Linked DNA regions of Homo sapiens: all the other regions are linked to region 3. The links come from fine-mapping of genetic effects on gene expression. A gene starts in region 3. Each other region holds a variant in brackets. All regions are shown on one strand. Distances are between the middles of the regions. Region 1 has its middle 31 kb from the start of SLC5A9. Region 2 overlaps LINC02794 (long intergenic non-protein coding RNA 2794). Region 3 holds the start of SLC5A9 (solute carrier family 5 member 9).

The links.
Region 1: its variant is fine-mapped to the expression of SLC5A9 in substantia nigra (GTEx, PIP 0.99). The same link has a PIP of 0.9 or more in spleen.
Region 2: its variant is fine-mapped to the expression of SLC5A9 in lung (TOPMed, PIP 0.97).

The regions. Positions count from the first base shown.
Region 1 is chr1:48,249,834-48,258,405 of GRCh38, reverse strand. No RefSeq gene overlaps it. Among named protein-coding and RNA genes, the nearest start is that of SLC5A9, 31 kb to the right of the region's middle. The variant G/A (reference allele first, on the strand shown) is at 3,777.
Region 2 is chr1:48,170,250-48,178,821 of GRCh38, reverse strand. LINC02794 (long intergenic non-protein coding RNA 2794) reads right to left here. Exons shown (of 15, transcript XR_007066073.1): 13 at 229-313. It also overlaps the pseudogene SKINT1L. Among named protein-coding and RNA genes, the nearest start is that of SLC5A9, 48 kb to the left of the region's middle. The variant G/A (reference allele first, on the strand shown) is at 4,288.
Region 3 is chr1:48,219,061-48,227,545 of GRCh38, reverse strand. It overlaps SLC5A9 (solute carrier family 5 member 9), which reads right to left and starts at 4,830. Exons shown (of 14, transcript NM_001011547.3): 1 at 4,648-4,830; 2 at 2,751-2,822. The coding sequence starts at 4,809.

The DNA.
Region 1 (8,572 bases), 31 kb before region 3:
ACACCTATCATGGACTCTTAAACTGGAGTTTGGATTGCAGGATGCTTTTTATGTAGTGACCTTGGATCTATACCAGTGGGAGGGAAGGATTGGGCAGAGGGGATAATTTTAGCTGCAATGCAGGCCTGATAGCAACCTTGCTCAAACTCACAGGGAGCGCTGGAGCTAAAATGGTCCATTGGAATAAACTCATGTTAGGCTGAAATGGCCATGTTTTTATACTTATTATTCACTGGATGTGGACTGCTCTTGGAAGGGTGGGACCTCTGGCAAGGTGGATCTGTGGGTAAAGAAATGCTGACAATTGAGGGCTGCCTCCCCACAGAACTGCCAGCAGCTGGGGCAACAGACCTTTTCTTGAAGAGGAATCTGGTGACACATCACCCTGCCTTTGCCTCCCCAAGTTCTATTATAACATATATGATCCAAACCAGTTTGCAGAAACATGGCTGGACAAAGAGGCTCCACCCTCTCACTCTCCCAGTTTCTTCCACAAAATAAAGTCTCAAGTAGCTCACTGTTCCAAAAGTGACTTAAACCACTGGACATCACCACCATTCCCAACACAAAACCATAGATCTAATACTAGGCCTATGAAGAGTTAGTGTTTTTCCCAAGCAGTAATTATAAGGAAGGTGTACAGCCCTAACCTGTTTATCAAGCTCCAGATTCACAGATACAAAAACTATCTGGCTATGCCAGTGGGATATCCCATGGGTACCTCCAAGTCGGTGTGCTCAAATCTGAACTCATAATTTCTTCTTTCAAGACCAAACCTGCTTTCCACATCTTAATACATTAGAGTACCTACTCTTTAGATCTAAAGCCTGGGAATTATTCTTAATTCTCTCCATCCCCCCAGAGTCAGTAAGTCCTGCAGATTTAACTTCACGAATGCCTTTTAGCAGCCTTCTCCCCTCCTCCAGTCCTCTCCCCTCCTTCACGGCTACTGTCCTAATTCAGGCCCTCATTCAAAGGAGGTTATCTTTTTGTAATTGTACTAACTTTTAAAAGTTAAAATAGTATGTTGTTGCAAATAGTGTAGTACAGCTTATGATATTCTCTTTTCTTACCCCATACCTGCAGGTACCCAGGGATGACCTTCTGTGAATGGTCTGCCTAGGTATTCTGGTGGATTCCTCCACAACTCCTTTTGATATTATGTAGATATAATACCTTTTATCTTGACTTCAACAAGCCAAGAACAATCTCTACTATGAAAGATGAAAATTTAATGTTGACTACCTTTCCTCCCTTCTTTTCCCAGTGTTTGATATTCATGTTATTATTAGTTATTTTATTGATTACATATGTAATTTTCAGTAACAGACTTAAACCTCTATTTCTTGCTCCACCTACTTTCAACAATCTGTTGACTACCTACTTTGTAAGAAGACAGATATTAACACTTCTGTCTTTGCCCTCTCAATTCTATCTTTTGTCAACTACATGTTTATGTTGTCAAAGTTGTAACATTTACATTCTTTTCTTTAGCCAAATTAATCTTCCATGCTCTTCCTTCCATAATTTTTTATTCTACAATTAACATTTTGATGTGTTTGCTTTAGTACAGTATTAATTTATCAATCCTTTTTTAAACAGTGGTAAAATGTACATAACATAATATTTATAATTTTAACCATTGTAAAATATACAAATTTTAACCATTTATAATTTTAACCAAATGTACACATTTGGTTACAGCATTCATAATGTACATAATGTACAGCATTCATAATGCTGTATACCTATCACCACTATCTATACCCCAAATTTTTCATCATCCTCAACATAAACTCTGTACCCACTAAACAATTTCTCCCCCTTGCCTACTCTTCCCCTGCCCTCTATTCAGCTTTTTCTCTCTCTGAATTTGCCTATTCTGGGGACCTCATGTAAGTAGAATCATTCAATATTTGCCTTTCTCTGTCTGGTTTATTTCAGTAAATGTAATGTTTTCAAGGTCCATTCACGTTATAGTATATATCAAAAATTCATTCCTTTTTAAAAAAACTTTTATTTGAGGTTCAGGGATACATGTGCAGCTTTGTTACACAGGTAAACTGGTGTCACGAATGTTTATTATACAGATTGTTTTATCATGCAGGTACTAAGTTTAGTACCCAATTGTTATTTTTTCTGATCCTCTCCCTCCTCCCACTTTCCACTCTCAAGTAGGCCCCAGTGTGTGTTGTTCCCCTCTTTGTGTCCACGAGATATCATTTAGCTGTCCTTTTTACATGGCTGAATAGTATTCTATGTGTATGTATAAGATTTTGTTTATCCCTTTATCTACTGATGGATTTTTCCTTTCTTTTTTTCAGTGATACTGCAACAACCTCAAAAATTGCCATCCCTTAGCAGCCTCTGGCTCTATCATTTATTCTCTTACTGTTGCTGGAATGATCTTTCTAAAGATAAGATGCTCTTTGTATATATTAGTTGCCCTTACCCTTCCTGACTCTGTCCCATTCTTGGCTATACCGTGGCACCCAGTGTCCCTAGGCTCACCTCTACCTCTTCTCCAATGTCATCTGTGTTACACTCTCACAGACCCTGTGCTTCAGCCACAAAAGGTACCTCACTCTACCTTAGAGATGCCATGGCCTTTTACATACTTGTCTTGCTTTGTGCAGTTTCTTCTGTCTCTCATATAATCATTTTGTCTGTCTACACAGAAATCTCTACACTCCAAGTAGAGTTAAATGTCTAAATCTAAGTTAAACATTATTTCCCATGAAGCCTTCCCCATTTCCACGAGGTAATTTGTTGCTCCTTTCTCTGTTTTTCTGAAGTATTTTGTTCCCACCTAGAATTTCAGTGCTTAATTGTTCTGCAATAATTTGCTGACTTGCCTGCCTTTTTTATTCAACTGACCTCCGCGTAGATTGCAGCTGTTTTCCATATTTATGTCATGAACCTGGAAACTGTAACATTCATGAAGAATGCTGCATGAGTGAGTAGTAGTACAATGAGGGTAGGGTTGAATGTGGAGTCAGAAATCTGGGCTTAAAGACCAGTTCAGCCACATTACCTCACCTCTCTGAGTTTGTTTCTTCATTCATCAGTCCTAGACTGGTGTTGAGAACTAAATGAGATGGTTAATGTGGGAGCACTCTTTATAAAATAATTGCGAGGATTTTAAAAATTATCAGTCTTACTAGTCTTCATGTACTTCTCATCCCAGATAAATTTACTATTCTATAGGAAGTTCCCAGTTTGTGAATCATTCCTTTAAGAAGAAATCATAAATAGTGGAAATATAATTTTGGAATACCTGATGTTTGCTTTGTTTGCTTAAGTGGTTAGAAATTTCAGGGATGCAGAATTTAGCTAGCAAAAGGAAGAACTTTCTAATTGGCAGTGTGGTCCAGTAATGAATGCTCTCAGGAGGTCATCATTGCTCCATCTCTGGACCACCCTGCCAATTAGCAAGTTCTAATAGAGGGCTGGCTAAGTTTACCTGTCAGGGAGACTGTTCAGATAAATTCTGACCCAGAATGAAGAGGGAGGAGAGCTGCACTAGCTGACTCTGAGGTTCCTTCTCATTCTGAATGTTTATAATCCTAAAATTTACATACAAGGCATACTGAGAGAGAGACCAATGCTGCTTTTGTAGTCTATTCAGGAGATAAGGTATAAAGGTTGGGTTTTATTTTTTCCTCTTTAAGAGAAAGTTGTAGATTTTGTATAAGACCACAGTAAAAAGTCTGACATTTCTACTTTGTGAGTCTGGGCTGAAGCTGAAATTTGATTTTGAAATATGAAAGTAAACT[G/A]TAACTACCTTAATTTAAGCCTGTAGGATTTACATTTATATATAACCTTTAAATTTCTCCCAAATTTTCACCCTGGAGAAAAAAAGAAATTACAGTAATCTTACTTAAGGCTAGAAATCTAGACAGACACTCATTCTAGGTTAATGGATAACTGACACTGCTTTGCCTGGGCTTCTAGCAGTTTCCATCCCCTCTGACTGATGTGAACTCTCACACCCAAGGACATGGTTACGAGTCTCTCATGTTAAATTGAGTGCTTTTGTAGTCCAAACTCAATAACAAAAACACTTTAGAAAACATTTTCTTCATGATATTTTTAAGAGTGCTATTTTTTTTTAAAACACCATCCTTTCACAGTTCAAAGCTGCTTCTTAATGTTATTATTGCTCATGGTAAACCCATTTCAATTCTCTGAAAGCTACTCTGCAATGTTTTTCTATTTGTGCTGTTGCCTCTCAAGCTGACATATGACTTTCCCTGTATACCCTCCACTACCACCAACCAATCCATCCACTTCCTGCCCCAAGGAGACAAACTGTGGAAACAAATTAGAAGCACACAATGTCAACATGAGAAGCGTCCATAGATTTCATCTAATCTAATTCAAGCCTTTGCGCCTCTCCTCTTTTAAGGAAGAAGCAACTGAGGGATGGCTAGGGAGGGTCATAAAGCAAGTAATGACAAAATTAAGCTAGGATACAAATCTTTTACCTGCTTATCTAGTACTTTTAACCACTGCCCCATGCACCGACTGGAGGTGAGTTGGGGTAGGGGCTCTGAAAGGTTTCAGAGAGGTGGTTACAGCTCTCACTGTGGTGACTGACAACTGACCCAATGGACAGGCAGTTTCCTTTTAAGTGACTTGGTAGAAGGCCTGACATCATCTTGCAATTGAATGAGGGGCTAAGAACCCTGCTGAAATATATACATATAGAGAGAGCCGGGTGACATCTCATATGTACATATTGGCAGGTAGTGATGGAGAGATCAACCTGAGAACAAGGTCCTGCTGGAATGAGAAAGCATGGCAAAGATGAGAGGTTTGGAAAGGGGCCACAGGAGCATTACAGTCAATGAGACTGAAGGTCCACATTAGAGACTGGAACAACTGAGGCACAAATGGTGAATGCTACCATCTGAGATTCCTCAGATACATTGAGGACATTCTGAATGTGAAGGGGGTTGTTGGAACTTGGAGGCAAAAGAGGCTGCTTTGCTTTTTAATTTTTACAGGCTGTCCTGAAGCTCACATTTGGGTGTTGACTGGCCTTTCTGAAACGGAGATGAAACTTGTCTACCTACCTCTAAGAGTTGTAGGATTTAATGAGACCTCACCCGTGGCGGGACTTTGTAACTCCAAAGTCTGTACAGATTGTACAGATATTGTCTATTATTCTTTCTCTTGATTGTGGCTAAGAACTAAGGAATCCAGAGCCAAAATATGATGGAGTAAATTGAACATGCATTCATTCACTCATTCATTGAACATTTATGAAGAGCTTACTAAATGTCCTAAAACAATGCAACCCCTAGATGAATACCACACCTACTTTCAAAGAGCACCAGTCTGTGGCAAAGAAGAGATGAAAATAATTATAACACTTGCATGAAACTTGCTATAGTAGAAACACAGGGGCCTGTGGAGGCTCAGAGGAAGGACACAAAACCAACTTGGGTGAGTGGAGGAAGTAGCATGAAAAGTTAGTAGGAAATGATTCCTGAGGTGAGTAGGAGATAGGCAATGGTGGTAGAAGGTCAAGGGTAAGTGTTCCAGGCAAAGGGAGCGACATGAACAATGGCATGGGATAGGGGAAGTAGGGCTGAATGAGAGGACCTTGGAGACCCCTTCAAATGGTAAGTGTGACAGACACATTAACGAAAATGTAAATGTGTGTGTGATGTGTGTGCCTTCAGTAGACCTGCCCAGGGCTTGGTGGTAATATAGGCCTCAACATGCCTTTTTCTCCAGCCCCTCCTATGTCATTCTTGGCTTGCCCACTACCCCTGAAACACTTTTCATCTTGAAGGGCCTGGATAATTGTTGCTGAACCCTTGCATGGCCTTAAGCAAGTCCCATCCCTTCTAGAAGTCTCCAGTGTCTCTTTCTGTGAAATATGGGGGTCTGATTAGCTGGTCACTGAGGTCCCTTCTAGGACTGACCCTGACTTGTGAGCTTCCTACACTGCAGTGATTCACTGTTTGCCTCTGACTCTCCCCCACACTCTGGGAATGGAGCTTAGGTCTCCTGACTTTCAGCTTAGGGTTCTTTTCTTTCCACCACATTGGCTGTTTTACTGTATCATAAGAGTTAAAGGAGAAACATCCTGTTCCTCAGAGAACTGAGTCTAGCTGAGAGCTAAGAAGGCACCAAAGCTTGAACACCATGGTACCCCTAGTGCCTGGAACAGGGTGCGGCCCATGACATTATTTGTAGTGTTTAGTGCCAAAATGAAAGAAATCTTGATTGTAAAACCTCAAAACTGGAGATAACCTAATAGATCTCTTTGTATGGGCTGTTCCCTCTGCCTGAAAACCTTCCCTTCAGCACCCACTTCCTGTGGCCAGCAGCAGGGCTAAGACTTGATACTAGACAGGAGAGCTTCTCTCCCTGTGGGTAAGACTTTATGGTCAAAATCCTCCAGACTTTGCCCTTTTCCCTCTCCACAAAGCCCAACTTCAAAGCCTGATTTCCTGTTAAAAAACTGTCTTTGGTTTCTCGGAAGCAGCACATGAAACCAGGTGCCAGCGGTTTATTTCAGAGGAGATCCCAGGAAACACCTCCAAGGAAATGGGGAAATGAGACAGGGAAGGGAAGGGAGCTATGCAGGGTGTGTTAATGGACATATTAACACGGTGGGTAGCTGCGCCTCATTGTCCCTCTGAAAGATATTTTAGAGCAAGGCTCCAAGTTGTCCCACTTCAGGGCAAGGGGCTGACAGTGCTTATCCTCAAACTCTTTTTTGTCGCTGGTTCAGGGCTGCTCCCAGGTGTGTTAACTCCAAGCACTTCTAGCTTGTTGTATGCAGGGGACCGAACATTTTTCTACAGTCAGAGAAAGCCCTCAGCAGAGAGGTGAAGGGGCTTTCAGCAGGAAGTCACAGTAAACAGCACTGCTGAGACCTAGGGGATGTGGGCAAGGAGACTGACAGCCTCTGCCCCAGTGGTGCAATGCCCATTATCTTCAGTCCCTGGTCAGTAATCTTCACAGCTCTGCCTTAGAGGCAAGAGGCTAAATACAGACAGGATTTATAAGGGGAAATTAAATATGCAGGGTTGACATTTGCAAATGAATAAATAGTATCCCTATTTTATGGGAATTCATTGTGCACTTTTGTACCTTAACCCTTTAGCACATGCTGCCTCACTACCTTGTATGACTTTTTCTAGAAAACTCCAATTCATTCTTCCTTCAAACTCTAGCTCCATTATGCACTTTTATGTTATGCCCTTTCCTGATTGCCCTGATAGAACTAATTCCTCCCTGCTCTTTTCTCTGACAGCATTTTCTGCTAGATCTAAAATAACATTGCTATGTAGTGTCATGCCTCCTTATGTGTTCATCTTGCCTGCTACTAATAGCAGTAATAATGTTGTGGGACGTTTTCCTTAGTTTAGCTAAGAGCCAGGTCCTTATCGCATGGCCATGAAAAATTAGGCTTGCAGATGATTTGAAGGGTGAGAATAATGGGATTTATTGGGCAAAAAGGAAAAAACGGGGAACAGGAACTCACTTCAAGGCCAGAGTTCCTGCTAGTGTAGGATTCCCACCTCACAGATTGAATTCCAGGTTCCACCCAAGGAGAGGAGAGGCCAGGCTCCTCCCTGCTGCAAATGGCACGAACGTCTGTGGCTCCATCCCAGTGTGCACTCCTCTCAGTGCATAGGCCAGTTGGAGTTTTGCCAGGGAGCCCTTCCCACCTGGCTGTCTCAGTAATAGCTAACATTTATTAAGTACTTTAGTTATGTGTGAGGCACTATTTTAAATACTTTATTTGAATTAACTAATTTAATCTTCTCATCAACCCAATGAAGTAGCTGCTATTACTGTCTCCATTTTGTGGATGAGAAAAGATAGATAGAGAAATTAAACAACTTTTCCAATATCTTGTCATTAGAAAATGACAGCATGAGGAATTGGTTCCAGAAGATCAGTCTTTCAAGCCCCTGCAGTCTTCTTAACCACTGCACATAACAGCCTGTCTTTGGCTGTAGTACAGAAGGGGGCACAAGGACAAAACCCTGGGATATATTTCTAGCAATTTTCATAGGATCTCATGCCAAGCTGGAAAACACCATCTATGGAGAGTCTTAAATAGAACAATACTTGCATTTTAGAAAAATCATTCTTGCTATAGTGCATAGGATGAATTGCAAGAAGAGAGACTGGGAAGAGAGATAAGAGTCAAAGGGCTGTTGAAATGATCCAGGTAAGAGATGAAGTCCCAAGTTTAGCATGGACCTTCCTTCCTGAGCTATCACCTGCTTACCTCCCAGTCACTGCACCACCCATTCCCCAACATGCAGGCCTAACACTCATGGATGTGCAGGTGGTGCCCTGCACAAATACACCTGGACAATAGGGGCATGTGGGAGCTGAAGTGAGCGTGGGCTCTGGCTGCCACCTGTCACCCTATAGTGAGGATCTGTATCTGCCAAGAAGAAAGGCATCTTTTGCTCACTTTCACAATGAAGCATAAGGACTAGCAGTGGTCCTGTCCACGTGTATCTTCCACTCCCGACATTTAAAACTATTTTTGTTCCTAGTTATGTCATAATTTTTCCCACCTCTGTGTTTT
Region 2 (8,572 bases), 49 kb after region 3:
CCATATTGGAATCCATGTGAGTTATCTGTACAGTAAGATAAGCAAAGACACAATAGGCTGGTGGGACCTCGATAGGTGATGAAAATTTGCAGTGGAAGGGGATCAATGCAAAGCAGACATAAATATAGTTTATTTAGAGACATATACATTAAAATCCTGAACCAATAAGTGGCATACAAGATTTAAAATTTCTGGCAAAAGCTACTTGTTACATGGTACAAATCTTACCAATGTGTAGTTGGGTAGTGTCCAGTCTTTGGCTAATAAAACGAAAGCTGCCACAAACACCCTTGTACATATGTTTTGAGCATATCTGTAAGTAAGAATGTAGGAAATATTTCTATGAATAGAACTATTTTGTCAAAGGCTATGTGCTGTTTTTATTACGATATCAAAAATATTCTGAAATAGTTACCAGTGTACATGTCCACCAACAGCATATGTGAGTTTGTCAGGTGGGTGTTACAGGTTTCAGGGTTTTTTGTATTTTCCAAATTTACAGATGAAAAATAGAAACTCACAGTGATAATATTTTACTTGTTTATTGAGTTAGGGTGGCCTTCTTTCCTCTCAAAAAATTGTATTCATTTTCTCTAAACTGCCTACTTAATGCCTTACTCCACATTTCCTTTGCATTAAACTTGCACAAATCTCTTTTTGATCTGTTATAACTGTTGCATGTGTTTCTGACCAGTTTATAATTCAATGGACTTGTTAGTTATATTTTGGATGTGCAGAATTATTTGGTTTTGACTTTTGATTTTATTTTGTGAATTACAAAATTTCCCCCAAGTTTCCATTTATTTCGCTCTCCTTTTTCTCCTCATTGACTTTTAACATTTTTATAGACTTTATTTTCTATAGAAGTTTTAGGTTCACAGAAAAATTGTGCAGAAGGTATATAAAGTTCCCACATAGCCCCACTCCCTCTTCCCTACCTGCCCCCCTCCCACAGAGTTTCCCCTTTTGATAACCTCTTGCATTTGTGTGATACATTTATTGAAATTAATGAACCAATATTGATAGATTATTATTAACAAAAGTCCAAGTTTACATTAGACACTCTGTGTTGTACCATTCTCTAGGATTTAACAAATTGTTATATAAATGAGCCAGAGATGGCCTTTGCATATTGGCCCTTTGTTGCTTACTTCTTAAATCAGGCTGAGACTCATTAGCTCAAAAGCCCACAGTGCCAAACTGAAATGTTTTCGCATCCAGTTGTTGTAAATATATCTCCAACAGGCAGATTTTTTTTGCCATTTTATGTCTTCCTGCTTTGTACACCTTGGGAAACTGCACCCAACATCTGCCGGCCATAGATAAGAAAAATCTTGTAGTTACATAAACTGCAGGCTGCTGCCCTTCAGAGCCCTCTGACCCAGCAGCTTCCTACCATGCTGTGAAGTGATGTTATCTAGACATGCAGCATCTCCCTTCCCATCCTTGGGAGCTCCTTTGTCCTCCTGCGTTCTGGATGGTGGTCCCCTGTGCTTCTATAAGGCCTTATGCTGTGAGGACTGTTCTTTTTGCAACCCTGTCCAAGTAGCGTCCAAGTAGAAGCTTTGTGTGCTACTGCCACCTGTGGGCTTATCTTTTTCCTTGATAAGCCTCTGAAATTCTCAAATTCATTATATAAATGTATTATGCTATGTATCCACTGTTATAGTATCATAGGATATAATTTCACCATCATAAAAATGTCCTGTGCTTCACCTGTTCATCCCTCCCTTCCCCTGAAGCCTGGCCAATTACTGCTCTTTTTACTGTCTCTATAGGTCTGACTCAGAATTTCATACGGTTGGATTCATACAGTCTGTGCCCTTTTCAAACTGACTTATTTCACTTAGTAATATGTATTTAATCTTCCTACATGTCTTTTAATGGCTTCATAACTCATTTCTTTCTATCACTGAGTAATAGTTCATTGTATGGACTTATCATAGTTTGTTTATTCATTCACTTACTGAAGCACATCTTGACTGCTTCCAATTTTAACAAGTATTAGAAAAGACTCTTTAAGCATTTGTATCAAGTTTTCAACTAATTTGGGTTATACTTAGAAGCACAATTTCTAGATTATATAGTAAGCTTATATTCAGCTTTGCAAGAATGTCAAACTGTCTTCCAAAGTTCCTATACCATTTTGCACTCCCACCAGCAATGAATGAGAGTTCCTGTTCTTCACGTCCTTGTTTGTATTTTTGATTTCAGCCATACTTATAATAGGTTTAGGGTAGTATCTCATTGTTTGAATTTGCAATTCCTAAATGATATATGATTTTGAGCATTTTAACATCTTTATTTGTCATCTATCTTCTTTAATAAAGTATCTGTTCAGATATTTTGTCTATTTTTAATTGTGCGGTTTGTTTTTACACTGTTAATTTGTATATTCTGCATAGAATCCTTCATCAGCTATCTTTTGCAATTTTTTTTTAGTCTGTGGCTTGTCTTTTTTTTCTCTTAACAAAAGCTTTTGCAGAGCAGACATTTTTAATTTTAATGAACCAAAATTTGAATATAATGAATTAGTGTTTGATCTGTTATACCTTTTCTATACATTCTTGACCAGTTTGAAATTCAATTTAGTGACTTATTTTTATGTTGTACAATTCAACAGTTTCTTCTTTTCACAGTGTCCAAGTCCTACGTTTTCTTAGTAAGAGTTTTCCAGACCACATTTCAAGATTATAACAATGACTCTTTCATTTATTTTAAATTTTGAAACTAACCCATGCAAAATGATTTCTTATATAATAATTGAGATTAAAATCTGACATTATTTTTTCAAAAAATACCTAGTTGTTTTTTTATTTATTAAGTAATCCATCTTTCTTCAGATATCCGAGATGTTATTTTTGTCATAAACCAAATTCCCCTAAGGATTTGCATTTCCAAACTCTGCCCCATTGAACTCTCTTCTCATGGGCCAATTACAGAACTCTTTTAAAAATGTAGTATTTATATAATTAATTTAATATCTTGCAGAAATATTCTCTGCTGTTTTTTATAATATAGTTTTTCTATTTAAAGTTTATAAGCATATTTTCTTTTTTGAAGTACTTTAAAGGTATTTTTATTTTCAGGATCTCAAATGGTTCCATCAAGTTATGTGTGCTGTATTGTTGATTTTAACATAAAATATTCTGATATTTTCCATTATGCCTTTCAAATTTTTTTCTTTCTCTTTATTTTCTCTAAGATTGTTGTAAACTGGAAAATGTGATAAAATATGTATTATACAACCTTAAGAATATATCAAATTATATATCTAGTTAGATATAAAAACTAGTATAGAATAACAATGAAATGATTTTACCTTGCATTATTATTATTATTTTAGAATAGACATAAAGGTAAATATGACAACTAGCTTGTAATCACTCTATATGTGATATTTTGCTGTTACATAAGCATTTAAAACACATTCAAAATAATCAATATTTTAAATATATAATTGGAGTTTAATTGATTAAGGCACTAAAATTTGCAGAGTCTGCAAAATATCTCAAGCACTGATCTTAGGAGCAGTTTAGGGAGGGTAAGAATCTTGTAGTCTCAAGCTGCAATGCCCTTTAGCCATAATTTCTAATCTTGTAGCTAATGTTAGTCCTACAGAGGCAATCTAGTCCCCAGGCAAGAAGGAGGCCTGCTTTGGGAAAGGGCTGTTATCATCTTAGTTTTTTTTGTTTTTGTTTTTTAATTTTTTTAGTATTTATTGATCATTCTTGGGTGTTTCTCGGAGAGAGGGATTTGGCAGGGTCATAGGACAATAGTGGAGGGAAGGTCAGCAGATAAACATGTGAACAAAGGTCTCTGGTTTTCCTAGGCAGAGGGCCCTGCCGCCTTCCGCAGTGTTTGCGTCCCTGGGTACTTGAGATTAGGGAGTAGTGACGACTCTTAAGGAGTATGCTGCCTTCAAGCATCTGTTTAACAAAGCACATCTTGTACCGCCCTTAATCCATTTAACCCTTAGTGGACACAGCACATGTTTCAGAGGGCACGGGGTTGGGGGTAAGGTTATAGATTAACAGCATCCCAAGGCAGAAGAATTTTTCTTAGTACAGAACAAAATGGAGTCTCCCATTTCCACCTCTTTCCACACAGACACAACAAGAATCCGATCTCTCTGTCTTCTCCCCACATTTCCCCCCTTTCTACTCGACAAAACTGCCATCGTCATCATGGCCCATTCTCAATGAGCTGCTGGGTACACCTCCCAGATTGGGTGGCGGCCGGGCAGAGGGGCTCCCCACTTCCCAGATGGGGCAGCCAGGCAGAGGC[G/A]CCCCCCACCTCCGGGACAGGGCAGCGGCCGGGCGGGGGCTGCCCCCCACCTCCCGCAGGGGGTGGCTGGCCGGGTGGGGGCTGCCCCCCACCTCCCGGACGGAGCGGCTGGCCTGTCGGGGGCTGCCCCCCACCTCCCGGACGGGGGGGCTGGCCGGGCGGGGGCTGCCCCCCACCTCATCATCTTAGTTTTAAACTATAAACTATAAATAAGTTTCTCCCAAAGTTAGCTCAGCCTATGCCCAGGAATGAACAAGGACAGTTTGGGTTTTAGAAGCAAGACGGAGGCAGTTATGTTAGATCTCTTTCACTGACTCAGCCTTAATTTTGCAAAATAGACTTCACTTTCCTCAATGAGTGGGGCAAGGGACCAACATGGAGAGTTTGAAATGTCCCCTCTTCCCACATCTTATTATAGTCAGGGACTAAATATCAACTTTGAGAGTTTCTGAGCCTCAACACTGAAAGAACTTCTGTTACAGCCAAGTTGTATCACAAGCAGAAAACGATAAATGAAACATCCTAACCTGTGTACATTTGTAGGGGCAGGTGGTGATAGTTTAAGACATCTTGTTGGTAACATCGAAGAAAACAGAGAGACGCAACGTGTTAAGCATAGTACTTCCATAATAACAGACTGTGAAGAATAAGGAGGTCAAACTAAACATAGAATGTGTGAGAATTTTCCAGAATTTAAAAAAGACAAGAATCATCCAATTCAAGAAGCACTATGAAAGAGCCAGAAAAAGACAAATGCATTCATACATGGATTCATTATAGTTAAAATGGAGTAAATTTTAAGAACTGCCTGAAAGTATGTTTAGAGTAAATGAAATAATGGAATGAAGATGGGCATGTGTGGCTGGCAAGATGACTGAATAGGAACAGCTCGTCTGCACCTCCCATCAAAATCATTGCAGAAGGTAGGTGATTTCTGCATTTCTAACTGAGGTACCCAGCTCATGTCATTGAGACTGGTTAGACAGAGGGTGCACAGAGGGCAAGCTGAAGCAGGGTGGGGCATCACCTCACCCGGGAAGTGCAAGGGGTTGGGGAACTCCCTCCCCTAGCCAAGGGAAGCCATGAGGGACTGTGCCATGAGAAGCGGTGCTTTCCAGCCGAGATACTACCTTTTTACCATGGTCTTCACAACCCATAGACCAGGAGATTCCCTCAGGTGCCTACGCCACCAGGGCCCTGGGTTTCAAGCACAAAACTGGGCGGCTGTTTGGGCAGACACCAAGCTAGCTGCAGGAGTTTTTGTTCATAACCCAGTGGCACCTGGAATGCCAGGGAGAGAGAACCATTCACTTGCCTGGAAATGGGGCTGATGCCAGGGAGCCAAGTGGTCTAGCTCAGTGGATCCCATCTCCATGGAGCCCAGCAAGCTAAGATCCACTGGCTTGAAATTCTCGCTGCCAGCACAGCAGTCGGAAGTCATCCTGGGATGCTCGAGCTTGGTGCAGAGAAGGGCATCCACCATTACTGAGGCTTGAGTAGACGGTTTTCCCCTCACAGTATAAAGAAAGCGGCCTGAAATTTCAAACTGGGCAGAGCCCACTGCAGCTCCACAAAGCCGCTGTAGCCAGACTGCTTCTCTAGATTCTTCTTCTCTGGGCAGGACATCTCTGAAAGAAAGGCAGCAGCCCCTGTCAGGGGCTTATAGATAAAACTCTCATCTCCCTGGAACAGAGCACCTGGGGGAAGGTTGGCTGTGGGCACAGCTTCAGCAGACTTAAACATTCCTGACTGCTGGCTCTGAGGAGAGAAGTGGATCTCCAAGCACAGCACTTGAGCTCTGCTAAGGGACAGATTGCCTCCTCAAGTGGGTACCTGACCCCTGTGCCTCCTGATGGGGAGACACCTCCCAGAAGGGGTTGACAGACACCTCATATGGGAGAGCTCTGGCTGGCATCTGGTGGGTGCCCATGTGAGACAAAGCTTCCAGAGGAAGGAAAGGGCAGCAATCTTGGCTGTTCTGTAGCTTCTGCTGGTGATATCCAGGCAAACAGGGTCTGGAGTGGACCGACAGCAAACTCCAGCAGACCTGCAGCAGAGGGGCCTGAGTGTTAGAAGGAAAACTAATAAACAGAAAGGAATAGCATCAGCATCAACAAAAAGGACTTCCTCACCAAAACCCCAACTGAAGGTCAGCAATATCAAAACCAAAGGTAGATAAATCCATGAAGATAAGGAAAAAACAGGGCAAAAAGGCTGAAAATTCCGAAAACCAGAAAACCTCTTAATAACAAACTCCTCCGAGCTAATGGAGCATGTTCCAACCCAATGCAAGGAAGCTCACAACCTTTAAAAAAAGTTAAAGGAATTGCTAAATAGAATAGCCAGTTTAGAGAAGAACAGAAATGACCTAATGGAGCTGAAAAACACAGCACGAGAATTTTGTGAAGCATACACAAGTATTAATAGCCGAATCGATCAAGAGGAAGAAATTATATCAGAGACTGAAGATCAACTTAATGAAATAAAGCATGAAGACAAGATTAGAGACAAAAGAATGAAAAGGAATGAACAAAGCTGCCAAGAAATATGGGACTATGTGAAAAGAACAAACCTATGTTTGATTGGTGTACCTGAAAGTGAAGGGGAAAATGGAACCAAGTTGGAAAACACTCTTCAGGATATTATCCCAACCTAGCAAGACAGGCCAACATTCAAATTCAGGAAATACAGAGAACACCACAAAGATACTCCTCGAGAAGAACAACCCAAGACACGTAATTGTCAGATTCACCAAGGTTGAAATGAAGGAAAAAATGTTAAGTGCAGCCAGAGAGAAAGGTCGGGTTACCCACAAAGGGAAGCCCATCAGACCAATAGTGGATGTCCGTGCAGAAACCCTACAAGCTAGAAGAGAGTGTGGGCCAATATTCAACATTCTTAAAGAAAAGAATCTTCAACCCAGAATTTCATATCCAGTTTCATATCCAGCCAAACTAAGCTTCGTAAGTGAATGAGAAATAAAATCCTTTACAGACAAGCAAATGCTGAGAGATTTTGTCACCACCAGGCCTGCCTTACAAGAACTCCTGAAGGAAGCACTAAATATGGAAAGGAAAAACTGGTACCAGCCACTGCAAAAACATACCAAATTGTAAAGACCATCAACACTATGAAGAAACTGCATCAACTAATGGGCAAAGTAACCAGTTAGCATCATAATGACAGGATCAAATTCACACATAACAATATTAACCTTAAATGTAAATGGGCTAAATGCCCCAGTTAAAAGACACAGACTGGCAAATTGGATAAAGAGTCAAGACCCTCATTGTGCTGTATTCAGGAGACCCATCTCATGTGCAAAGACATACATAGACTCAAAATAAAGGGATGGAGGAATATTTACCAAGCAAATGGAAAGCAAAAAAAGCAGGGGTGCAATCTTAGTCTCTGATAAAACAGACTTTAAACCAACAAAGATCAAAAAAGACAAAGAAGGGCATTACATAATGGTAAAGGGATCAATGCAACAAGAAAAGCCAAATATCCTAAATATATATGCACCCAAAACAGGAGCACCCAGATTCATAAAGCAAGTTCTTAGAGAACTACAAAGAGATGTAGACTTTGACTTAATGATAATGGGAGACTTTAACACCCCACTGTCAATATTAGACATATCAACGAGACATAAAATTAACAAGATATTCAGGTCTTGAACTCAGCTCTGGACAAAATGGACCTAATAGACATCTACAGAACTCTCCATCCCAAATTAACAGAATATACATTCTTCTCAGCACCACATCACATTTATTCTAAAATCGACCACATAATTGGAGGTAAAGCACTCCTCAGCAAAAGCAAAAGAATGGAAATGATAACAAACAATCTGTCAGACAACAGTGCAATCAAATTAGAACTCAGGATAAAGAAACTCACTGAAAACTGCACAACTACATGGAAACTGAACAATCTGCTCCTGAATGACTACTGGACAAATAACAAAATTAAGGCAGAAATAAGTAAGTTCTTTGAAACCGATGAGTACAAAGACATAATGTACCAGAATCTCTGGGGCACAGCTAAAGCAGTGTTTAGAGGGAAATTTATAGCACTAAATGCCCACAGGAGAAAGTGGGAAAGATACCCTAACACCACAATTAAAAGAACTAGAGAAGCAAGAGAAAACAAATTCAAAAGCAAGCAGAAGAAAATAAATAACTAAGATCAGGGCAGAAGTGAAGAAGACACAAAAAGCCCTTCCAAAAATCAATGAATCCAGAAGCTAGTTTTTTGAAAAAAATTAACAAAAGAGATAAAT
Region 3 (8,485 bases):
ACACAGGCACAGTACACACACACTCATGCAATTACACACACTCTGACACACACATGCACTCACGCCCACACAGGCACAGTACACACACTCTCTCACACATACACACACACACACTCTGACACACATGCACTCACGCCCACACAGGCACAGTACACACACACTCTCACACATGCAATCACACACAGGCACAGTACACACACACTCTGACACACACATGCACTCACGCCCACACAGGCACAGTACACACACACTCTCACACATACACACACACACTCTGACACACATGCACTCACACACAGGCACAGTACACACACACTCACACATGCACACACACATGCACTCACACACAGGCACAGTACACACACACACGCACACACACTCTGACACACACACTCATGCACTTGCACCGTCGCACACATACACTCACACACATGCACATGTCCTCATATGCCCTCACACGCACAGGTATGCACACACGTGCACATACATTCGCAAAGCACACACACACAAGCACACTCATGCACACACACAGTGCCCACATTCACACATGCATACATACTCACACATGGAAACAAATTCACACAGGCACTCACACACACACTCACTCTTCCTCTCTCAGGCGGTCCCAGGGTGCTGGTAGGGCTGGGCTGAACCACCCAGTCAGAGCAAAGAACACCAAGGCCTCCTACTTCAGGGGAAGAAGCCTCCCCCAGGCAGTTCTTGGAGCAGTGAGGCACCTCCACCCCAACCCAGCCCAGGGTTTTTAACCTCACTTCTCCTGCTCCTAACCCAGGAGACATCAACAAGATCAGCAGGGGAGGCATGGGGAGGAGGACCATGCAGACCTCTCTGGAAGAGGACGGGCGACTGCACCTTCTGCTCTCAGCCTCCCAAGCCCCACACTGTTCATGGGGCACAGACTCAGGGCAGGGCAGATGCCCAGACAAACACTCCAGCAGTGCTGGTGGGACTGAGCTTTCCCTACCCAGAGCTGGTTCTTACTCTGGCCTCAGGCAGGACCCAGGTCTCAGGTGCAGGAGGCACAGCTCACAGCCTGGCCCACCAGAGGATGGGGAGCACATCCTCTCTTTCCCACTGGGTGCCTGCTCTGTGTTTGGGGCGCAGTGGGAACCTGGGAGTGCCTGCCAAGGCCTCCCTCTTGTTTGGAGGCCTCAGGTTCCTCACACTAATCGTTGGGCCAGAGCTCGGCTCTCTGTGGGTTGACCAGACAATCAGCAGGGCCCCTGGGCTTCTCCTGAAGTGGTCAGAGGAACCTGCTCTGTCCTGCTTCTTTCTCCTCCTTTCCTTCATTTCCAGGGCTGTGATTTGGGGGGCACTAGCTGAAAAGAACCATTTTGAAGGGTTTTTCCTTTTTCCTGATGAGAAGGTGGCTGTAGCACCAGTGACCCCGCCACTGTTCCTGAGCTGCAAGGCCCAGCTCCCCGCCATCCCTGGGGATTCTGTCATGCTGGACAGACAAGAGCTCCCTGCTCCTACTTCTTCCTGTCCCAGATACCTAAACCTTCCAGAGAGCCCTGGAGGCCTCCTGTGTTTCTGCTACTCTTTAATGAGTCTGTGACCACTAGAGAGTGGGGAAGGTGGTGAGAAGGAGAAGGGTGGGGAGAGGCGTGAAGATGGCTGGTGGTGTGAGTGCGCATGAATGTGTGAGTCTGAGTGTGCACGTGTAAGTATGTAAAGGAGCATGAGTGTGAGACTGCATGTGAGTGTATGTGATTGTGACAGTGTGTATGAGAGTGAGAGTGTGAGTGCGTGAGAGAAGGTGTGAGTGTGAGAATAGGAGTATGATTGTGTGCATGAGTTTGCAAGCATGTATGAGTGCGGGCATGTATGAACATGTGTGGGTGCCTTTGTATGTGAGTGTGAGTGTTGTGTGTCAGTGTGTGAGAGTGTGCATGTGGGAGTGGGTATGCACACATGCCGTGTGTGAGTTTTGCATGCCTGGGTGTGTATACTGCTTCAGCTACCACTGGGGCTGATGACTCTACTGGTAATTTTTGAGGCAGGGCTTTCCTCCCTCCATCCCATTCCAGGAGGAGGAAGTTAATTTTGAGGACCAATAGAAATGTGAGGTGGCTTGATGGGAGAAATTGTGGCTCACGAAGGTTTGGGGATCGATTCCCTGAGGTTTTTGGGGATTTTACCTCTGTGATTCCCCTAACTTAGAAATGTGGTGTGGCTTGATGGGAGAAACTGTGGCTCACAAAGTTTTGGGGATCGATTCCCTGAGATTGCTGGGGATTTTACCTCTGTGATTCCCTTAACTTAACTGTTCTTCAATATTAAGCTTATGTGTCACCTTCCCCCCAAAATCTTTCCTAACCCTAGCTGACTCCACTGTCTGGTGGTCAGGGGCTTCCAAGCTCTGGTGAGTGCCCCCTGCTTCCCTCTGGCTCAGCAGTGCGCATGATGTTTATGAATCTATCTGCCCCACTCAGCTCTGAGCTTCTCTAGGACAGGGACATTCCAGATTCATCACTGCAAGTCAAGTGCCAGATGTAGGGCCACACCTAGGAGGGGCCAGGGGATGTTTGTCCAAGGTGCGTGCTAGCAGGACCACTCAGGTTGCGGGGCGGGTTTGGGCGGGAGAGAAGGGGCCCAGAGTCAGGAAACACAACGGGGAGGTCTTTGCCTTGGTCCAGGTGTGAGAAGATGGGACAAGTGCTTGGATAGTGGGGAGGAAGAAAGTTGGGAGCCTCTGCACTAGGGGTGGTTGAGAAGGGTCAACTCACTGGCCACCAGCTCATGGACCTCCCGGCCAGGAAATAGCCGCCAATGGTCCCTCGACTTGCACGGATGGACGACTGGAAAGGAAATAGATGAGATGAGGATTTCTCAAGACTCTCTGAACCTCTGCCCTGCCCCCTCCCCGCAGATTTCCTTCCCCTCGGTGCAGGCACTGTGGGGACACAGAGGGTGAAAACTGAGGCAGAAGAGAGCTGCCTGAGGCTGGTTCCACAGTTTCTAAGCGATGTATCTTGGCAGAGTCACTTTCTCTGTGAGCCTCGCCATTCATCTCCCAGGGCCAGTGCGAAGAGCAAAGGAGGTAACGGATGTCACGTGTGTGAAGCCATTGATTGTGCACTCTTGTCCCCTTATCCTTCCCTCCCCAAAGTGCGCTTTCAGAGTATGATTTGTTATCACCTCCTTAGATGTGTAGTGCTCACCCTTTCTCTGAGCTGATCCCCTCCCTGCTCCCAGCTGAGCTCCCACACTGGAGGCGGGAGGACAGAGAGGGCTGCAGTTTGACTGTGAGACTTTGAGCCCTGAGTAGAGTTATGGGTACTGTTTTGGAGTTTCCCTTGCCCTGGGTTGAAATCAGATCACGCCACTGAGCCCCATCCAGGACCTCCCTGTCTTACACCAGTAGGTGGTCAGTTAGCAGCCTGTTGGAATATTCTCTGGAGATACAGGGTGAGGGCAGGGCAGTGGGTAGGGAAGGATGAACTTGAAGCAGCTATTCAGATGCAAAAGCCAACAGTTCTCTGACTTTCCCCTAAGGGAAAATAATCAGTCACGAGGGAGTGATAAATATGTGTGGGGCCTTGTGCTTGTTAAGCTTTTGCTTGTATTTTCCTTGTCAGCTCTGATCCTCTTGGAGGCCATACGAGCAAAACAGATCCATTTTACAGATGTGAAAATGGAGGCCCAACATTGGAAGCAATTTGTCCAAAGTCACAGAGGAGTTGGTGCTTTTCTCGGCTGGCCACTTCCAGGAGCCAGTGACCATCTGTTAGCCCAATTCTTCCTCACACCAGCACTAGAAGGCAGGGACTGTTCACCCCCCTTTATAGATGAGGAAACTGAGGCTCAGAGAGGGTCTCTGACCTGGCCACAGCCTAGGAAGTGACCATCTGGGACTTGAATCACAGCAGAGTCTAAAGGTGCTCACACTTCTGTGGAATGCGTGGTGATAATAGCAGCCATTTATTGCCTGCTGATCGGGCACCAGGCACCGTGCCAGGTGCTGCAGTATGTCCTGTTGCTGAATGATCACAGCATAGTCCTTATTCTCATTGTTCACCTGAGAAAGCTGATAGGCCTCATATGTTCCCAGGGACATGAGGCTCTCATTGTTGCAGCTGGGACCTGAACTCAGGTTTCCCTGACCCCAAAGCCTGGCCCCTGCCTCTAGCACTGAGGCTCCTGGGAACAATGGAGAACAGAGGAACCTTGGAATAAGCCTGGCACACTTCCCTGAGAGCACATGAGCCCCTTCTCATTTAGAAATCACCTTAGCCAAGATGCTAACGAATGCAGGACTGAGGTAGGGCCAGGGGTCAAGAGTTCTCAGAGTTGGGGGCCTTGGGGTGGGAAGAAGGAAGGAGTGAGGCTCAGGGCAACCAGGGATGGTTGGGGCCAAAGGCAGCAGGTGCTCAGAGAGGAGTCAGGAGTCGGGGGCCTGGTCTGCCTCTGACTCTCTGTGTGACCTCAGACCAGCCACACCCCTCTCTGCCCTTCTAAAAATGAGGAGATCAGGAGCCTGATTCCTGAAGGCCCTTCCTTCTCAGCCACATGGTTCTATGATCTGCTTCTTTCTGCCTAGCCCTGCCCCAGCTCCACAGCCCCACCCAAGCTGAGAGACCACTACTACCTCCCCTGCTAGCCCCAGCCTCAGGGCCCACTTACCCAGATCCCCACAGCAATGACGAAGACAAAGTAGATGACCACCACGCTGATGTCGTAGGCGTGCAGACCAACTCTGGAGTCCAGTGCTATGTGTGGAGCTGTCTCAGTCCTGACCCCGTCCCCTGAAGCTCCAGGCCCCATTGCTGCCAGCTCCTTGCTCATCTGTTAGTGTTGGTCAACAGCAGGCTGGACTTTGAGGCGCTCCTGGCTTCATTCCTTTCCTTTAATGATTAAACTGCCCCAAGCACCATTAGTTGGTGAGAAAACTCTGAGCCCTGCTGGCACATACAGTCCTGCCTCCTTTTCTCCCAACTGCCACCACCAACCCCTGCAGGACTCCTTCCTTCCTCTTCCTTGCTGCCACTACGTGCACACACATACATGCATGTGTACACACAGGCACACACATACACGCAATCTCCCTAACCCCAGATGAGCAGGAGGAGAAAGGAGGGGGAGGAGGAAGAGGAGAAAAGGAGCAGAATATTGGAACCCCAGAGGTGGGAAGGACTTCAGAAATCAAAGTGTTCAAACTCCTGTGTGGTGGGAAAACCAAGGCCCAGGGAAGTAAAGGTGGAGCCGGGACTGGAGTCCAATTTTCTTAAGAGTTCAATACAATTGTCTTTTACCTAGTGAGAGGAAGACAAGGGGAAGGAGGTGAGGAGTCTACTGTGACCCTAGCAAAGTGGCCACCACCTCATGTACTCCCATTCCAACCTACCTAGATGTTGCTTTCTCTTTTTATATAGTGTAGGAAACTGAGGCTGGGGAAGACATCATCATTTATTCCAAGGAACTAGGCAGGGCCATCTCTGAAAAGGCAGAGCCAGAATTCACATCTTCTGATGCCTGACCCATACTTCCTATTCTGTACTGTGACAGATGAAATGGTTGTGGTCAGGAGGCCTTCCCTGAAAAAGATACAGTGCTCCCTGGGTCCAGGGAAGACCATCTCTGGGACTCAGGCAGCCTAGATTTCAGTCCCAGCTCCACCTCTCACTGAACTACAGATGCCCTTGGGCAGGTTGCTAAATGTCTCTGGGCCCGGGTGTCCTCATCAGTGTGACCTGTGCCCTGCCTGCCTCACACCACCAATGAGGCTAAGATGTGCTCCTGAGAACCTCTGCAAACCCTGAGCTACTGAATGTTCTTGGGGTTAACACAAAGAAACCAACATCGACCACCATCTAGCCAAGGGGCCCAGATGCCACGCACTTAGATATCTGCTCACATGGTCCTTCCAAAGTAGCTGCATTTGGAATATTTCAGTCTTACAAATATTACTCTGCATGCATCTGCTGTAGGGCCCAGACTGGAGCAGCAGGAAAACAGATCTCACTGGCCCTGTCCCACACCCCATCCCCAGCTCTCACTGGCCCTGTCCCACACCCTATCCCCAGCATCTTATAAGTATCCCAAGGCTGGGTGTGAGGACCAGATCCTCTTTTTTCCCCTTTTGGTGGAAAGAAAAGTGAGAGGCAGGGTCCTAGGCCTTCTCTCCCCAGTTCTCCTATCCCAGAACATCAGGCACTGGCCAGGCTGAGCCCCGAGGAGAGGGATATTGATCTGGGAGAGAGGTCAGCATAGTCCCCAGCTGGACAGGGCTCTGTGGGATCTAGCACCTGTTAGGATTAGATACCAGAGGAAGAGTCCTTCATATACACGTTTAAAGGCAAGTTTATCAGACGAACAGGGATGCAGGAGGGGCAGCATTAGAAACATCAGGAAAATGTGATGGACCAGGTGCCCAGTGGTCCCTGGGGGTGAGCTGGATACAGGGACAGTGGGGAATGAGGCTGGCAGATCTCTGGGTGTTAATCAGGGAGCAGGGAAGGAGTGGTCTGAGCTTAGGCCTCTGAGCACACCATAGTGAGGGCTCTGGATCCGGATGACTCTTCCAGAGATGGGAAAAGGAATGTCGCAGGGAGAAGACAGCTGAGTCTTGTACTTCTTTCTATGCTCCCCACAAGGAGCCCCCTCACCCAGCCCTTGGGGTTTGCTATAGTTTGGATGCTTGTGTTGCTTCCAAAATTCATGTTGAAACTGAATCCCCAATGCAACAGTACTAAGAGGTAGGGCCTTTAGGAGTGATTAGCCCGTGAGGGCTTCTCCCTCATGGGTGGGATCAGTACCTTATAAAAGGGCTAAGGGAACTAGCCAGGCCCTTTTGCCTTTTTACCTTCTGCCATGTGAGGACACAGCCACAAGGTGCCGTCTTGGAGGCATAGACTGGGCCCTCACCAGACACCAAACCTGCTGGGGCTTTGATCTTGGACTTCCAGCCTCCAGAATTGTGAGAAATAAATTCCTGTACTTTATAAATTACCTGGTCTTAGGTGTTTTGCTGTAGCAGTAGGGATGGACTAGGACAGTGTTCTGCTGCCTGCATGCTCTGTCTTCCCATCTACCTCACAGATACATGAGGCTGACCCCCAAACCCTGCACACTTACCTAATCCAAAACTAGCAGGTTTGGGTTTATAGTAGCCTCTCCTCGAATGCATCTAAGACTTATCTGTAAGCTAACCAGGCACATTAGCAGCCCAGAGACCAACAGAGCATGAGGAAGGGAGCAAAAAAGGCTTTGAAACAGCCAGAATAGACATTCTAAAACTCATGCCCAAAACCTAAATCTTTGACTTATCAGTGAGCCTTGTGACCCCACTCAGAGACTGTTTATTTTTGTTTTAGCCAGAGTCTTGTTATTCATATCCCAACTCACAACAAATTAGAAGAGAGGGGGCAAAGCTACACAGGGACAGCAAGGAGAATGGCAGCTGATGGGTTGATGGTGCATGAGAGGTCATTAAACCTGGAAAGACCAGGAAAGACAATGTAAAAGATGACTAAATCGGGGCAAACAGACCTATAAAACTGGGTAGATCAACTCTCAACAAAGGGCATTCTTGAGTAGCAGCCAAGATTCACACACATACGGATGACCCAGAGTCATCAAGGAAAGGTGACTGTGGTCATTATGAGTTTTCTATTTAGAAGGCATGGAGTATGAAACCCAGGCAGGAAGAGTTTCATGCAAAATGGTCAAACATTTTAGGCAGGTGTTGGCATTCAAAGCTGAGGCCTCAATTATCCAGAATATTCTCTCAGAGAGCTTCCGAGAGTGAAGGATGTCCTCATGCTGTCAGTCCTACATGAAGTGAGGCCTGTCCTATCCCTGACCCTGTTCAGGGAGCACACATGTCTTTAGTTGTTCATGCCTTGTGGGGAATACAGACAGTCAAAAGACAGGTGCTTTTGACACAAAATAGGTCACTTTTGTCCACCCCTTTCTTCCTTTTAGCTGGATAGCCCAGAGGAAGGATCAATGAAGTCCTTTGTTGGAGAGACTGAGAAAGCTTTATGGGAAGGGGAATGGTTTCAGCCATGCATAAAAAAGTATAGAAATATAACAGGCCAATAAATGGAAGTTGCCACTGAGGCACAAAGACATACTACACATAAGAAGAACAAAGTTGGAGGTTTCATGCATCCTGATTTCAAAACTCACTACAAAGCTACAGTAGTGAAAGCAGTGTGGTAGTGGCATAAAGACAATCATATAAACCAATGGAATAGAACAGAGAGCCCAGAAATAAAGTCTCACAGTTACAGTCAAATGATTCTTGACAAGAGTGTGAAGACCACTCAGTGGAAAAATGACAGCATTTTCAACAAATGATGCTGAGAAAATGGAATATTCCTATGCCAAAGAAAGAAGTTGGACCCTTACATTGCACCATATATGAAAATTAACTCAAGATGGATTGAAGACTTAAATGCAAGAGCTAAGAAAATAAAGCTCTTAGAAGAAAACATAGGGTAAAATCTTCATGTTGTTG